Linked DNA regions of Homo sapiens: region 2 is linked to region 1. The links come from fine-mapping of genetic effects on gene expression. A gene starts in region 1. The other region holds a variant in brackets. All regions are shown on one strand. Distances are from middle to middle. Region 1 holds the start of WNK1 (WNK lysine deficient protein kinase 1). Region 2 overlaps WNK1 (WNK lysine deficient protein kinase 1).

Region 1 (4,391 bases):
ACACAATTTTGCATGGGCTCCTATACTATTCGCTGTATAGTGAATGGGCTGAAAGACATTAGTTTAATGAACGTCAGAGCAATGCTGCTACTGTAAGGCTTAAGCATCATTAGGTAGAACAACATCAAACATCCAAAAGGGGCAGAGAAGAGTCTTTTTTTAATAATTATTTTATACTAAATGCCTGTGCAACCATCAAGCAAAATACATCCAAAGGTACAAGGTTGTTCTCATTTAAAAAGAACAGCCTGATCTCAGGAATGAAAACACGCTTCTACACCCAGACGCAGCTCATCACTGCAGAGCCTTTGATGAGATTGAAATGCACAGAAGAAGAAGCATCTGTACTTTCAACTTCCCCACTCATTCCAAGTTTCCTGCCAGACTCTAAACCAGGAGACAATTCGTTTGTACTAAGATGACCTTCACCACCGCTGCCCGGTAGCAAATCCCTCTGGCTACCAATAATTCTTATCCTATCCCAACACCTAGGCACATGCTCCACATTCTCCTAATTTCAGCCCCTTTCAAAAGTTGGCCTCCCCGTCCCACTCGGAGTCCAACAGAGAATGCCAAGTGAAGGGTGAACTCGATCAACTGGCTTCGCCGAGCCAAATTTGGGATCCAAAGGACCGTCAAATAAAGTAGGTGGGGCTTTACCTGCAGTTCACACCAGGCGACTTCCACGGTGGTTTCAGTGTCCAGACCTTTGTAGACCGTCTTAAAGGAGCCTCTGCCGATTTCGATGTCAAACTTGAGAAAGCGGCCATCGTTAGACATTCCCACGGCCTTGGTCTCCAGCTCTTCGATATCATCCTGCTGCTGGCTCCGTTCCTCCTGTGGCTCCTTGGCGCTGCCGCCGCCGCTGCCACTTCTCGCCGGCGGCGGCTCCTCTTTGCTCCCCACAAGGCTAGGCTGGGACACTGGGCGGTCTTTGCTGGTACTGCTGGGGACAGTCGAGGGGGCAGGGCCCGCGACGGCCTGTTCCCCAGGGGCGGCAGCGGCTGGAGGCTGCTGGGCTACCTGGGAAGTGGCGGTGGCGGTCACGGTCTCTTCCCGGTGGGGCTCCGGTGGAGCACTCTGCGGGACAGCCGCGGGGATGCTGGGCTGGGGCAGGGAAAGAGGAAGGCCGGGAAGCTCCAGTGCAGTGGCATTGGAGTCACAGATGACGCTCCGGCGGAAGAAGCGGTGCTCAGTGGTGGTAGTGGTCGCGGCCGCCCCACGGCTGTCCTTGTCCATAGTGTGGCGGCGGCGCCTGTACTCCTCGGTCCTGCCGGTCACAGCGTCGGCGGCCGCGGCTCCCAGTTTCTCCCCCACGGAGGAATCGGAGCTGGAGCCATTCTTGGGGGCAGGAGCCGGCGGCGAGAGGAACAGGGAACCGGGAGTGCTGCTCTGCTTCTCTGCGGCGCCGCCAGACATGGTCGGTTCGCTGGAGAGAGGCGAGCGGGCTCGGATTCGTGAACGAAAAGGGCGTGAAGGGCCGAGCCGCCCGCGCAGAGGTCTGCAGGGAACCGCGGCCGGGCGGGTTCGCGCCGACCCGGACGACGCCTCACTCAGCACCGACAAGCCGCAACGAGGGACAGGCGGACCGCTGGGCCCAGCTGCGGCGGGGGCTGGCACCGAGGCTGCTGCGGCTCACGAGGAGGGCTCGAAGGCGGGCGATTCGGGAGCTGAGCCACGGGGGTTAGCGCCGCACGGTCCGCATCCATCCTGCGGCGAGCGGCGGCCGGGCGGGCGGTGGCAGCAGAGGCGCCGCAGTCATGAGGGGAGGGCCAGGGGCCGGCACCGAGTCGAGGCGGATGCGGCGGACGCGGCTCCCACTGCCGCCGCTCGCCGAGCTGGGCGGGCTAGGCCCAGAGGGCGGCGGCACCGCGAGCACGGGACCAGGTCCGACGCCCGGGCGGTGGCGGCCCCGGGGCAGAGGAGTGGGAGGGGCCGAGGCGGGCGAGGGAAGGCCGCGGCCCGGCTCCCGGTCACTCGGGCGGCCGCCTCCTCCCACACGCGCCCCCAGCGATGGGGACCGGCCTCACAGGTCGCCCATCGCCCAGAGGCGAAGGGCCGGAGCCTCGGAGCCTCGGCGCCTGAGGAGCGGGCCCCCCCTTCCCCGAGGCCTCCCCGCCCGCCCCAGGCCTGGCAAACCCGTCTCCTCCCGGGCCGGTGCCGGGGGCTGACGGAGGAGGGAACGGCGGGGAGGGGAGGGCCGCTCACCGCGGGGCCCGAGCTCCGCTGCTTCTCTGAGGCAAGAGGAGAGGAGACCTAGAGGACTGGGTGAGGGGGAACAGGGAGAGAAAAGAGCAGCCACCCCCACCAGGCGCCTTCTGTCACCGAAGATGGGGGTGCGGAGTGGCCGAGAGAGGAGCCGCGTCCACCCGGGAAACTCTCCGCGCTAAATGGCGCCGGGAGTCTGAAGCCTCCACACAGCCCGCTCGGATCCCGCCCCCCGCCGCCCGGAGCAGCCCCACCCCCCAACTCGCTCCGGGGCTTTTGCGCAGGCGTGCTAGCCCCGAGGCACCCTGGGACTTATAGTTTACGGGTTGGCGGGGATGAACGGGACCTAGAAGAAAAGTGCCTACGACTTCCGTGATGCCTTGCGGTTGCTGTAGCCTAATGCCTCGTGGGAGTTGTAGTTTTCTTTGGAAACCGTCCCTTCTGAAAGGCTGATGGGAGCGTCATCACGGGTCGCTCAACCCCATCCCGAAGTCCGCGCGAGCTTAGGAAAATCATTATTTAGGGATTAATTGTGGAAGAAGGAAAGGAAGGAAAAAAAAAAAAAAAAGAAGAGGAACGAGCGGGCGGGGGGTGGGGGGGGGGATGGAAAGACTCCCATCATGCTCTGCTAAGCTAGAGAGCTCTTAGGGTTGCCATGCAATGAAAAATGATCTGTTGTTCATCTTTAATGGAGAGAGCCTCAGTAGTGTTGAGTGACTGCAGGGCTGTGAGGGTGGAAGGGAAGGGCAAAGCAGGATAACCGGAGCCTGAGCTCTGAGTCGGAGGAGGGGAAAAGAAACTTTGTGAAGATTGTGCATGAAATTAATATTGATTAAACGGATTGGAGGAGGAGACACGGAGGATTACCTTCCATCCTCCTCCCCTCATCAATTAAGGCCACATTCTCAGCTCCCGGCCGAGACGGATATTCTGGCTCTCAAAAAAGGGCTGCCTTACTGAAATCGGGGATCCTAGTGAACTCTATCTTTGCTTTGTCTGAAAAATAATAAAAGGGGGGTTGGGGGAGCGGTGGATTCAAGAAAAGATAAGGTCTACGGATCTATGGGTCTTTGACCACACTTGGGGGGCTGGGCTGACTTCTGCCTTTGTAGTTGGTTGAAACTTATTTTCCACCTTTCTTCTGCTGGTGGCTTCGTGAAACAACACCCCCTCTTTCTCTAGAGCTCCTGAATGTCCACATGCAATGTCTACAAAGGCTCTGGGCCCGGGAAATGTGGATCCATGCGGCTTGCCGCCATGGAATGTTTTTCTTGAAAGCATCCTTGTCTGCCTGGACCCCTGTGCTCTTCGCAACTACTCAAGATGTGGAGGGGACGAGCACCAGGGGGCACCAGACCGAGTAGGAAGCCGGACTCGGGAGCAGACTGCAGTTTAAAAGCCTCAGTCCAACCGGTGGAGAGCGGGAAGCGCTGAAAACGTACGCAACCGCATCAGAGCGTCCGGACGCGGCCGCCTCTCTTCAGCGCCCGCTGCGGAACAAGCTCGAAAGCGCGCGTCGGGGCCGAGGACCACGCTGCGAGCGAGCAGCTAGCAAGGAACTCGGCAGGAGGTTCCTTAGCACAGTTATCGGATGAGCTCCACCTACAGAAGTCTTGCCCTGCAGTTCATGTTAATTCATCTGATACGTAAAATACTTAACCCTATTTTTCTTTTCTTTCTTTTTTTGTTGTTTATCACAAGCTACACTTTCAAGTTTACAAAAATGTTTTAAACCAATGATCGTTAGGTTTCATGAAGCTGACAGGTTACGAACATTTTAAAATGCCGATTCAGCAGGGACAACTAGAGTACTAAAATATTAGTGTTCCATTGCTTTAGAAAATGTATCTTTCATTCGTTTGCTATTGGTAATGGTAAATAATCTCATTATGGCAAATGGAATTAAGAGTGTTTTTCTAACCGTAAACCTAATGTAAGCAAGGGAAGAAATGGCTGTAAAATACATTTTTATTGTACTTTTGAGTAAAATAAAACTTACCCAATTGTTGCTTCACTAGGAAAAATAGTCTGATTTTAAACATAAGGCAGCTAATTACAAATTGGCAAGTTAAAAGAAGATCAGTAAATCACAATGTTCCCTTTTGGCACCATGAAAAAATTAGGATATTTTTGTGTGAGTGGTTGTTAAAGGATTTTATTATTGCCTGTTCCTGTTTACTGAG
Region 2 (4,391 bases), 100 kb before region 1:
TCTCTCCATCAAAAAAAAAAAAAATTTACTTTTAAAAAGGACTATAAAATCTAACACCCATTATAAAAGCAATACAAAGAAGTTTAAAAAAAAAAAAAACACACACACACGAAAATCCCACTAATCAAAGATAACTTTTAGGGCCATCACAATTTTATGTCAATGGGATATGCCACACACGGCACTTCATCAACTGCTTTTTTGCTTAATGATAGTATTGATATATATAAGTCTAAATCAATTTTAAAATGGCTAATGTCAATTTACCATTTCTTGTGCAACATCTTCTGGGACATCTCTCTCTAAATCAAAAGAAAACTCAATAGCTTCATTATCTTTGTATTTTCCCTTTAATTTCTTAATATCTTCAATACGTAGCCATAATTTTATGGCTATTTTTTCTCCATCATCTTCTTCTGCTAATTCTACCCGTACTCCTGTTTCCTCTTGGAAGAAGGCATGGTTCAAAAGGTCTTTGATGGAATATCTTCCAAACAGAGGGAAAAGAAAAGGAACAAAAATAAAACACCATTAGTTTGAAAAAATAATTTTCAAATGTGGCCAATTATTGTTATTCGCAGAAGAAAAAAATGGGAAAAAATACAGGGGAAAGTATAACTCATTTTTACATTGCTGAATTTGAAGGGTGCCTACAGAGGTTTACTCTGAAGTTATAAAACATCATAACAATCTCATTCATGAATAAGAGCTGACAGTGATAATTTTTAAATCCAATGATCTCATTAGTAATAGTATACTAGTAATGGCGAGCTAACACAATTGTAACATAATTTTTAAATCCAATGATCTTATTAGTAATAGTATACTAGTAATGGTGGGCTAACACAATTGGCTCTATTAAAGCTTCAAAATACCACATGATCATTTATATAGCATTTTATAAGTAACACAAATCTTCATATTTATGATCTTGTCTGACCAACACCCAATTTGATATCATCTCCTGATTATTAGGAAATGGAGGCCCAGAAAGGTTGAGAATCTTGCTCACAGTTATAAAAGCTGTAAATGCTGAAATAGAAACTAGAAAATAAATATTTTTGTTTCTAGTTTGGTACTTTCTACCACAGCAAGCTTTATTTACACCAGTAAGTTCTCTTAATTCCTTGTTCAATAATTTGTGTACTGGGCAAGCAGAAGTCTGATTGTGAAACAATCTTAAGATAAAATGGTTTCAATATGCCAATCATCTAATAAACTGCTCCAACAAGAGTTGAAACAGGCTGGGCCCAGTGGCTCACACCTGTAATCCCAGTACTTTGGGAGGCCAAGGTGGGTGGTTCACCTCAGGTCAGGAGTCTGCAACCCGCCTGACCAATATGGTGAAACCCTGTCTCTACTAAAAATACAAAAATTAGCCAGGTGCGGTGATGTGCGTCTGTAGTCCCAGCTACTCAGGAGGCTGAGACAGGAGAATTGCTTGAACCTGGAAGGCAGAGGTTGCAGTAAGCTGAGACTATGCCACTGTACTCCAGCCTAGGCGACGTGACAAGACTGTGTCCAAAAAAAAAAAAAAGAGTTGAAACAAACATTCCTTTGTTTATAGTAAAAAGTTCTTAAAGAGATTTAAGTACCCAGCATATATAAAAATGAAAACTCAAACTAAATTTTTACTTAATAAAGGCTTAAAAACCATGAAGTTAAGCTCTTCTAAATAACGATGTTATAAAAAGAACGAGACTGGAGAGGTGAAAAGATGGAATT[C/T]TTTAATTCGGTTGATACATCTGATAGCTCTCATTCTTCAAGTGGTAGATTATGCTCAATTTGCAATTTGTATTTGTACTAGCTGGTCTCCTTTTTCTTTTTTGGAGGATGGAAGGGGGTGGCAAAGATAGACTGTTTTTCAGAAACAGACACTGGACCTTCGCCATGCCTGACGGGTGATGAATCAGCTACATGGCAGATCAGATACTTGCCACTCCTCTAAGAGAAGCCCTCTGTTAGTACAAATGACTAAGCCACATCTCCTTCCAACCCCTGGGCCAAGTCTTCTCTTTTTACTCAAGGAATTTTGATGTTTTGCTCTTCTTCAATTCTGGCGTAAGGACGGCAAATCAGACCTGTAATAGCTGAGCTGACTTTAAAGAGCCAAAGTTTTATTTCACCACTTAGAATTCAATGGTAAAGGACTAAGAAAAGATTTCCTGTGTTAGATATTAAACTCTTTTTTGAGTTTTATAAATCATGCTGATGTTTTAAGTAAGCAGTTCTCATGGAATGTAGCTATGTTTATGGTGGTTCTGGTTTACTGAAACTCTACCAAACCATATTTTTACAGTGTTCCAGTATATCAAATCTGAATAACCACAATGAACAAAACCCTACCTTTAAAAATGTTACAGGCACAAATAGAGAAACCAATCACAAATATTAAATACACCGTAGAATGTGTGTTGTACTCAAAGCACATTACTTTTTAGGTTTTGTTCAAGTATCACCCAGATCAAAAGAGGCAACTTACCTTTCATCTTTGTTTTGTCGTATGCATCCTTCAATAATTTCCTTCACTTCAGGAATTGCTACTTTGTCAAAACTGGCTGGCTTCACCCCCTGAAAACCATAAACAGAAATACATTAATAAAAGCAGGGCCTTTGAACTTTGTTTTTTAAATTTCCAATTAAGGTTCTTTTAGGTTCCTTTCTTACTATCCCGGCTTTTTTTCTGACTCGCCTGCAGGAGTTGGTCCATGCAGTGTCACAGTTGGGTAGTGACAACTTAGCTCTTCACAAGAAAACATGGAACAGTGACAGCAGGGTCACTTACTTCCATATGTGACAATGAAAAAATTTAGGCAGATGTTAATATCTTCTGCTGTGTTTCAAGTAAAGGAATTTATTGCCTAAAAAAGAAAGCTAAATGTTCTAATTGGTTAGAAGATCTTTTGTTCAACCTTGTTCCCTAAACACATAAATCAATACAGCATTTAACTATTTTGAACACTGAACCCATGTGTGGGCATGAATTCACATGCTTAGTTTGGCAGGGATTATATTATTATAGTAATCTTTAACAAACTCAAAGGAGTTGAGGATTTATATTGTTTTGGTATGATAACTGAAGAGCAAATTGTCCTGCACAAATAAAACACAATGAAAAGTAATATATTGGACCCATACGAAAGACAAGCTCTGCAATTAATCTCAGAAGAAAACTCATTACCACTATCACATGTGATACTACATAGTAGTCATCACAGTAATAGTTTAAAATCTTTATAAAGTATAAATAAATTCTTTCTTATTTTTTTTTTTCCCTCGAGATGGAGTCTTGCTCTGTTGCCCAGTATGGAGTGCAGTGGTGTGACCTTGGCTCACTACAACCTCTGCCTCCTGGGTTCACGTGATTCTCCTGCCTCAGCCTCCTGAGTAGCCGGGAATACAGGTATACGCCACCATGCCCAGCTAATTTTTGTATTTTTAGTACAGATGGGATGGGGGTTTCTCCATGTTGGCCAGGCTGGTCTCGAACACCTGACCTCAGGTGATCCGCCCTCCTCGGCCTCCCAAAGTGCCGGGATTACAGGCGTGAGCCACCATACCCAGCCAATAAATTCTTTAAAAATAAATTTTCAGGTTGGGCGCCGTGGCTCACACCTGTAATCCCAGCACTTTGGGGAGGCTGAGGTGGGCAGATCACGAGGTCAAGAGATCGAGACCATCCTGGCCAACATGGTGAAACCCCGTCTCTACTAAAAATACAAAAATTAGATGGGCGTGGTGGCGCATGCCTGTAGTCCCAGCTACTCGGGAGGCTGAGGCAGGAGAATCTCTTGAACCCGGGAGGCAGAGGTTGCAGTGAGCTGAGATCAAGCCACTGCACTCCAGCCTGGTGACAGAGCAAGACTCCATCTTTAAAAAAAACAAAAACAAAAACAAAAACAAAACAGCAATGTGTGGAAAATATACATAAGATGTAAGAACAAAATGCTACTGTCTAAGAGGTGGGGTGAAAGAGAAAAAGATCTCATCTATTCTGACCTCATCTAAGTCACCACACGGATCAAGAGTTGAAGCACTGATATGCTGTTCAAGTGGCACTGTAAGTCAACAGACACATAAAACAAAGGGAATGGAGTTGGGGTGGGGTGGTCAGAAAAGTTAAGTTATTAAATATACATAAATTCTGATTATCTATAGTGTCAATGACAGATATGGTAAAACAAAATTAGTGACTAATAAATCACAGAAATGCATGTAATCTCTCATAGATCTAAATGAAATAAATGAAATACATAAAATGATAAGCTCTAAAGTCTTTTAAGTACAAGAGTTATATCCAAAGCTGGATAATGCTCAATTACTCATTGTATTATTCCGAAGACCCAATTTGGAGAATTCTACTCGCAGGGCTAACTTTTCACAGCAAGGAA

What was found. PIP is the estimated chance that this variant, and not a neighbour inherited with it, causes the effect.
Region 2: its variant is the best candidate, but not a certain one, in a credible set for the expression of WNK1 in whole blood (TOPMed, PIP 0.76).

Annotation. Positions count from the first base shown.
Region 1 is chr12:750,594-754,984 of GRCh38, reverse strand. It overlaps WNK1 (WNK lysine deficient protein kinase 1), which reads right to left and starts at 2,406. Exons shown (of 28, transcript NM_018979.4): 1 at 661-2,406. The coding sequence starts at 1,419. RefSeq lists enhancers at 956-1,674, 1,675-2,393, 3,151-3,200, 3,251-3,350 and silencers at 1,511-1,890, 1,901-2,280, 2,361-2,510.
Region 2 is chr12:855,341-859,731 of GRCh38, reverse strand. It overlaps WNK1 (WNK lysine deficient protein kinase 1), which reads right to left. Exons shown (of 28, transcript NM_018979.4): 5 at 2,483-2,571; 6 at 268-487. Among named protein-coding and RNA genes, the nearest start is that of RAD52, 92 kb to the left of the region's middle. The variant C/T (reference allele first, on the strand shown) is at 1,726.